3 separate regions of the Homo sapiens genome follow, and regions 1 and 3 are each linked to region 2. The links come from fine-mapping of genetic effects on plasma protein levels. A gene starts in region 2. Each other region holds a variant in brackets. All regions are shown on one strand. Distances are from middle to middle.

Region 1 (2,474 bases), 60 kb before region 2:
AAATCCCCATTTTAAATGCATTTGATGGTAGTTTTTAAAGTTAATTGAAACTTTTACTACATTGGGTTATTCTACCTATGGCTTTGCCCAGTGCTGGTCTTTTGACCTTAGAGTTCTATTTCTGACACAAGCATTAAAGGTATGGGACATAACTTTTTTTTTTTTTTTTAAGACCAAGTCTTGCTCTTGTCACCTAGGCTGGAGTGCAATGGCACGATTTAGGCTCACTGCAACCTCTGCCTCCTGGGTTCAAGCGATTCTTTTGCCTCAGCCTCCCGAGTGGCTGGTATTACAGGCTCCTGCCACCACACCCAGCTAATTTTTGTATTTTTAGTAGAAACAGGA[T/G]TTCACCATGTTGGCCAGGCTGGCCTTGAACTCCTGACCTCAGGTGATCCACCTGCCTCAGCCTCCCAAAGTGCTGGGATTACAGGCATGAGCCACCATGCCCGGCCAGGATATAACATTTTAATCTTCCTTTAGTTTCCTGTCTTTCCCTTCTAACCCATGAGTTACATTTTAAAATTCAATATGTATTTTTATGTCCATTTGGACCAATAATTAATTTCTTTTGTTTATTCCTTGCTGGTAAAACAATTATTGAATTCTGAAATTTGTATAAATAAGTCACTAAGCATAGTTCCAGCATTTATGATAATATTTTATAGTTATTTATCATATTCCAGTTTAGCTTGCCCTTTTGCCTACAGAAAAGGTCTTTTCAATAATTTTATATAGTTCTTTATATTTTAAGAAGTCTTTAATTTGCTTTTACATCTTCTTGAGGTAGGCACCTAAAGCTCAATAGTATTATTTTAAAGTTCAGTTTCTGGTTTTGGATTTTTTTTTTCCTTTCTGATTGAATCTGCCATTTCCTGAGCCATTCTGGTTGTAGCAGTATACTGAACCAGTGTCAACCCGGACCAGTTCACTGTTACCAGTGTATGCTCATGGATTGCATCTTATACTCTAATGTCCAACATCTAATACAAATTGTTGACATATTTTTCCCTAAATGCTTTCCAGCTATCTTTATTGAAATTTGCTTCTCTGCTTTCCTGTTCACTATTATAACATGTTGTTATATGTTTCTCCCATTGAAATTGCTTTTCAGTACCAAGAGTATCTCAATACCCACAGAAGCTTTGGAAATTTCCCTGTGGGCATTTTCCAGGACATTCCGCTAAATAAAACTACATATAGCACTGGTTTCCAGAAAGCACCACTCTTAAAGCCCCTTATAAGTTTTCATATGTATCTCCTTATTTCCTCTGTTTCTAAATGAGTTACCCTCATAATGTGACTAATTTTATTTAAGTCTCCTATATAGAATTCACAGTCTTCCTCTTTTGTGTCTTCCTACCACAGTGCATCTGATTCCTCTCTAGAAGTGGTTTAACTCAATCTCTTTTCTTACAGCCTAAATTTGACCTTCCTGTAAGTTCTAACCTACCACATTTCTTTAAATCTTTTTTCTTCTTTTTCACACAGAAGTCCTGGGGCTCTGTCGTGGGATTACTACCATCTTCCTCTCGTATTGGACTTTGAAATTCTCAGTTATTTTTTATTCTTTCCTCCCTCTCAAGTCTTACATCCCTAGAGAAAGGGGTCCAGGAATATTATATTTCTCACTATCTTCCCAGTGCCTAGCTCACTGCTCCCTTGGCAAAACACAGCAGATGGAACTCAGAAATCCAGTCCTCACCGCTTCCACCTCCTTACATACTGACCTGTATTTCAGAGAGCCTCTTATTGCCATTCAGAGATCCCTCACTGCCACTCCTGTTCTGGAAAGCCCATCTCCTAGGCTTAGAGGATGATCTCAATGCCTGCAAACAAGGACATTAACAGAAGGGTGTGACCTTATTGATCTCTAGGATTAGGGAATGCTCCCAAACATCTTGTTCAGAAATTCTTTCAAATAAGATGCTCTCCAGTGGCATTTTCTCTGAAAGCCAGAAACTCCCTGCCCCATATGCACATATAGCATCTTCTTTCCAGTGTTGTTGAAGCCCATAATAGAGGAAATTCAGCACAATAAATAGACCTCAATTGACTACGCTGATTAGGAGCACATTGGTTTTTGTTGTATTCAATTCTAATTATTTATTACACAGTTACCATCCTTTGATGAGATGTTACTCTTCATCTGTGATTGCTTATAGTTGTTCGCGAGCTTCTGTCCATTGGTAATTAGAAAGTTTATTTATATCAAGTTTAATCTTCCTGTTAAAAACAGTGTTCTAATAGTCATCCATATTAAAATATTATATGGCAGTATTAAAAACTACAAATATTACTCTTGGGAATCAAATCATACACTGTAGCACATCATCTTTCTTGGCAATAGTACTGCTGTTGTACACTGATGGCCTCTAACAGAGAAGAAATCATTCCATTGAAAGAAAAGTAACTATCAAGAACAAAGTTGGAAGTGATGCCTTAAAGCTACCGGCCCATGTCTAAATGTACTTTTG
Region 2 (2,812 bases):
GTAAAAAATTTCAGTATACCTACAAGTTCAAATTCTGAAAACTTGTTGTTTTAAATACAATTCAGACTAATTTCTGGATGCCTTTTAGTTTTACAAACTTAAGTGTGCCATCATTAAAATCCTAAGTATTTATCTTCTAGGAAAACATGTTAAGCCTGCCTTAATTGACATAAAAGTATAGCACCTTTTATAAATATGTAAGCAAAGAACAAATGTTTGAGTCAAGAGATGAGTTACACAAATAAAATAAATGAATAAATAAGCGAAAAACCTGTTTCTCACGGTTGTCAAATGACCTTAGATTCCGGTCTGTATAACATCGTCCCCAGACGCTAAGGATTAAGTTATGCAACATAGTAAATCTGACATTTACAGAAGCAAGTAGGTTTGAAACACACGACAGACTGGAATTTGCTAGAACAAACTTGTGCCAGCAGCCTGGTATGTAAGGGATCCGACGAAGTAAAATAGGCACCTGTCACTCCGTGCAAACAACTCTTTACGAAATAATTACAGGTTTGCAAATGATCAAGGGTGTAGAAATCCACAGATGAAGCACAGTTCTTCACAAGAATTCTCCATGAGGTGCATTTCTTTTTAGATTAAAATTTTAGCTTCATCAAAACGAATAATCTGGGAAAGAGGTGGTCATAAAAGGTGGAGGCGCCTTCAGAACGAGTCCGTCCTTGCTGCCGTGAGCTGACAAGAGTTCTCGGAGAGGACCCGACTTCTGCTGGGGCAGTCGCAGTAAAGCCCGGAGACAGGAAGGGCCCGGGGGCGGGGGCGGGGGCGCCCCCGAACCCAAGACGCCGGCCAGGTTGGGGGCTAGTGGGGAGGTCCGACTGACCAAGGCTGGGTATGTGGAGGGAAAGGGCGGGAGAGACACGTCGAGGAGGGCTCCGCACCCAGGCCCGCACGCACACCCGCCACCCTTACCTGGCACAGCGGCACCATCCCGCCTAGGACAGCGGGACCGAATCACGGCCGCAAAGGCGCAGGCGCGGGCTCACCCGGAGCGCAGGCGTAACCCGACGGCGCTCAGCCCCCGCCTGCGCCTGCACGGAGCATGCGCACAACCAGCTCCGCCCCGCGCCGGGCTCTAGCTGTTTCCCTCAGGCGGCCTGTTCCACGCCAGGATTAGTTTTGCTTCGCAGATGGGCCGTGGTGGTGAGAGGAAGCAATCAGTATGGAAATGGAGAAATGGCTTACCATGCATGTCCTTCTCCCCAGGAGGGAGGTCGTGGTGCAGGCGAGCAGACGCCAGACTCCTGGACACTTGCCGCCTGCGTTATGGAGGCTTAGCTAATAACCTTGCAGGGGTCTTCAGGCTTTTCCACTGGCTCACCTTTAGGCTTCTGACACTTTTACCTACGGTATGTGAACCTCGAAAATTTGAGACAGGTCTCAGTTAACTTAGAAAGTTTATTTTGCCAACGTTGAGGACATGCCCGTGACACAGCCTCAGGAAGTCCTGAGGACATGTGCCCAAGGTGGTCAGGGCACAGCTTGGTTTTATACATTTTGGGGAGACAGGAGACATCAATCAATATGTAAAAAGTACATTAGTTCCTTCCAGAAAGGCGGAGACCGTTAAAAGCAAGCCCCGCCCCCCCCAACTGGGGGCTTCCAGGTAGGTAATAGACAGTAGCATTCTTTTGAGTTTCTGATAAGTCTTTCTAAAGGAGGCAATCAGAATATGCATCTATTCTTTGTCAGCAAAAGAGGTGACTTGGATAGAATAGGAGGCAGATTTGCCCTGAGTAATTCCCAGTTTGAAGGGGCCCAAGATTTTTTTCTTTCCCAGGTATATGATTAGTGTTTCTTAAAGACAGAATATCCGCCTGGTCAGAACATTCGAACTGTATGACTTTTCCTGTTTATTGGCTGCTCGGTAATTGTATACTGTCCGTCCAACTTTCCCAATTCTTGCCAACAAGAACTCTTGGCTTTAAATTGCTTGCGTCGTTAAGTGGATGTAAGTTACACGTCCCTTTCCTTGGAGCTCACAGTCCTGGGTAGGAGAGTTTTAAATATGAATGATAATTCCCTGTAATACTAAGGATCTGTGTTACATTTCAAGGGTGGAAGGGGAAAGTGGTTGTGTCACCTGGGGAGTGAGAAGATGCTGAGAAGGTAAATCTGCTAGAATGGTGGCAGTAAATGACAAGAGTGGGAGTAGAGCACGAAGAAATTTCACTTGCCTCTGACAAGCCACAGGGATATGAAGAAGCATAATAAGTTCACAGAAGGGCAAGTAGTTGGCAAGGCAGGTGTGCCTCCAGCAAAGGAGGTGATGAGAAGTGAGGCTGGAGAGTCCTTGGTAGGAAAAATTGACAAGGAGCAATGAATACCAATGTGTATCCTGGTAAAGTTGCTAAACATAAAGGATAAAGACTATATTCACACCCAGGCATAAAAACAAGGGAATGACAATAGTGGCCTTAGACTCCTCAGTGGCATCTGATGGCAATGTGCAGTGTGTAAAAAAGGCTGAGAACAAAAGCATGATCCCATAATATTACAGCCAAACTGGTGGGGCAGGATTCTCCTAAATCAGCAAAAACTCAAAAAACACAATACCCAAGAACCCTTCTTAAAAATCTTTCTTGGGCAAAAAGTCCACTCAATCAAGAGTAATCAAAGTAAATAACTCAGCAATAAAGGTATTAATATGGGAAAAATGAAAAACTAAAAAAACTGGCATTGAGATTTTAACCCATTCAAACGTAAAACTAAGATATCAATTATGGGATATGATTATAAAATAAAATGTAAATGACATCAGAATATTAAAAAAAAATGGAAACTGTCC
Region 3 (2,807 bases), 16 kb before region 2:
ACACAAAACAAACAAAAAAGGCATAAAATGCCAGCGGTTTATAGAAAAAACAGCATGGTATTCTCCAGTTAGGTATGCCAGAGTCCAATTCTTTTAACAGCTGTGAGAATTTGCTGCTTCATTCCAACAAAATTTTATTTAAAAAAAAAAAAAAAAGACTGGAGAAACTAGTCATTAGCTTGATAAAGAATATTTAACAGCTAGTGGTGCTGGTGTGTACCTGAAGCTCCAGCTACTTGAGAGACTGAGACAGGAAGATCGCTTGAGCCCAGGAGTTCAAGTCCAGCCTAAGCAACATAGCAAGACCCTGTCTCAAAAAAATGACTATTTAAAAAGACAATGTGGCCAGGCACGGTGGCTCACACCTGTAATCCCAACACTTTGGGAGGCTGAGGCCGGTGGATCACGAGGTCAGGAGTTTGAGACTAGCCTGGCCAACATGGTGAAACCCCATCTCTAATAATATAAAAATTAGCTGGGCGTAGTAGCAGGTGCCTGTAATCCCAGTTACTCGGGAAGCTGAGGCAGGAGAATCACTTGAACCCGGGAGGCAGAGGTTTCAGTGAGCCGAGATCGCGCCACTGCACTCCAGCCTGGGTGACAGGGCAAGACTCTGTCTCAAACAAACAAACAAAAAAAAAGTTAGTACTGTATATGTAAATACTAGCTTTTCAATGTGCTATACAAACAATTATAGCACATCCTTCCTTTTACTCTGTCTCACCTCCTTTAGGTGAGTACTTCCTTAAATAAGTGCTAAACATACATATACGGAACTTGAAAGCTTTGGTTAGCCTTGCCTTAGGTAATCAGCCTAGTTTACACTGTTTCCAGGGAGTAGTTGAATTACTATAAACCATTAGCCACTTGTCTCTGCACCATTTATCACACCAGGACAGGGTCTCTCAACCTGGGCGCTACTGTCATTTGGGGCCAGGTGATTCTTCCTTGCAGGGGCTGTCCTGTACCTTGTAGGACAGCAGCCCTGTCCTAGAAGGTATGTTTAGCAGCATTCCTGGCCTCTAGCTACCCGATGCCAGAGCATGCTCCCCCCGCAGTCATGACAATCAAAAAATGTCTCCAGACATTGTCAAATGCCTCCTGGGGGGCAGT[A/G]TTTCTCAAGCACTTTTAAGCAAAGGTAAGTATTCATACAAGAAATTTAGGGGGAAAAAACATTGTTTAAATAAAAGCTATGTGTTCCTATTCAACAATATTTTTGCTTTAAAAGTAAGTAGAGGGCATAAAAGATGTCATATTCAAATTTCCATTTCATAAATGGTGTACAGACAAGGTCTATAGAATGTGGTAAAAACTTGACTGCAACACAAGGCTTATAAAATAGTAAGATAGTAAAATAGCTTATGAAGAAACTACAGAGATTTAAAATTGTGCATGACTCATTTCAGCAGCAAAATAAGAACTCCTAACTGAACAGAAATTTTTCTACCTAGCAATGTTATTCTTGTAAAATAGTTACCTATTAAAACTGTGAAGAGTAAAACTAAAGCCAATTTATTATAGTCACACAAGTGATTATACTAAAAATTATTATAAAGGTTATAATTTTATAATGTATTTACCTGTCCTGATATATAGCTATAACCCAATATATGAAAATCTCAAAAATTAAGACATCATCATACAGAAGGCAGGATTCCTTAAACTGAGATCCCTGATCCATCTTTAATATTTCAATTTGCACACATAAAACAATGCCCTTTTGTGTACATTCAGGCATACCCATTTTAATCAATTTGAAAGGTTAATTTAAACCTCTAGAGGTGAATGAGAAACATGGGGGAAAAGTATGAAATAGGTGAAAATCTTAACTATTTCTTTGAACTCTAAAGACTGAAACTGTAGCCATTATGTAAATAAAGTTTCATATGTACCTGTTTATTTTGGCAGATTAAGTCAAAATATGAATGTATATATTGCATAACTATGTTAGAATTGTATATATTTTAAAGAAATTGTCTTGGATATTTTCCTTTATACATAATAGATAAGTCTTTTTTCAAATGTGGTGTTTGATGTTTTTGATTAAATGTGTTTTGCCTCTTTCCACAAAAACTGTAAAAATAAATGCATGTTTGTACAAAAAGTTGCAGAATTCATTTGATTTATGAGAAACAAAAATTAAATTGTAGTCAACAGTTAGTAGTTTTTCTCATATCCAAGTATAACAAACAGAAAAGTTTCATTATTGTAACCCACTTTTTTCATACCACATTATTGAATATTGTTACAATTGTTTTGAAAATAAAGCCATTTTCTTTGGGCTTTTATAAGTTATATATTTTACTATTTTTATCTTATACATTCACTTTGCTCACATCCAAGACTCAATTTAAGAAGACTGAGGCTATAATTAATTTGCCATAAGTGTCCAGTCTATGTTTCTAGCAGTGACCACAAGGATCTTCTTTTGTAAGACTCTTAAACTGCCTTCGAAGTTTTGAGACAGTGTAAAGCATTGCTCCTCAAAGTGTGGCCCAGGGACAGATGGTGCTGCATCACCTGGAGCCTGTTAAAAAACACAGATCTCAGGGGCCACTCAAAACTATTCAAGTCAAATTGTAAGTTCTACAGCATCCCCAGGTGATTCATATTGCATTGAAGTTGAGAAGCACTGCTCTAAAGCTTACCTTTTGAAATAAAATGTGTGCTTGGAATAGAGAGGGAAAAAAAATCAGCCAAACTGCTGCAACATGCAAAAGCAGAGTCATCTGCACAGTTTAAAAAAAATCATAATAAGCAGGAAGGTTTAAATATTTTTAAAGAGTAAATATGCTGAAATAAATATG

Which allele goes with the higher level. Positions count from the first base shown, and alleles are read on the strand shown. Strength reflects both the effect of a copy and how common the allele is.
With allele G in place of T in region 1, the plasma level of the protein whose gene starts at base 982 in region 2 is lower (strong association).
As copies of A replace G in region 3, the plasma level of the protein whose gene starts at base 982 in region 2 goes down (strong association).

Evidence for each region. PIP is the chance, under the fine-mapping model, that this variant and not a neighbour inherited with it causes the effect. The UK Biobank Pharma Proteomics Project read protein levels with antibody pairs (Olink). The fine-mapping took linkage between variants from a reference panel, not from the people measured, so its PIPs are less certain.
Region 1: its variant is fine-mapped to the plasma level of the MOCS2 protein (UK Biobank, PIP above 0.99).
Region 3: its variant is fine-mapped to the plasma level of the MOCS2 protein (UK Biobank, PIP above 0.99).

What each region holds. Positions count from the first base shown.
Region 1 is chr5:53,048,860-53,051,333 of GRCh38, forward strand. All of the region lies in intron 6 of ITGA2 (integrin subunit alpha 2), which reads left to right. Among named protein-coding and RNA genes, the nearest start is that of MOCS2, 60 kb to the right of the region's middle. The variant T/G (reference allele first, on the strand shown) is at 346.
Region 2 is chr5:53,108,776-53,111,587 of GRCh38, forward strand. It overlaps MOCS2 (molybdenum cofactor synthesis 2), which reads right to left and starts at 982. Exons shown (of 7, transcript NM_004531.5): 1 at 476-982. MOCS2-DT (MOCS2 divergent transcript) reads left to right here and starts at 1,067. Exons shown (of 2, transcript NR_104654.1): 1 at 1,067-1,373. RefSeq lists a silencer at 721-1,010.
Region 3 is chr5:53,092,485-53,095,291 of GRCh38, forward strand. It overlaps ITGA2 (integrin subunit alpha 2), which reads left to right. Exons shown (of 30, transcript NM_002203.4): 30 at 1-2,295. Among named protein-coding and RNA genes, the nearest start is that of MOCS2, 16 kb to the right of the region's middle. The variant A/G (reference allele first, on the strand shown) is at 1,114.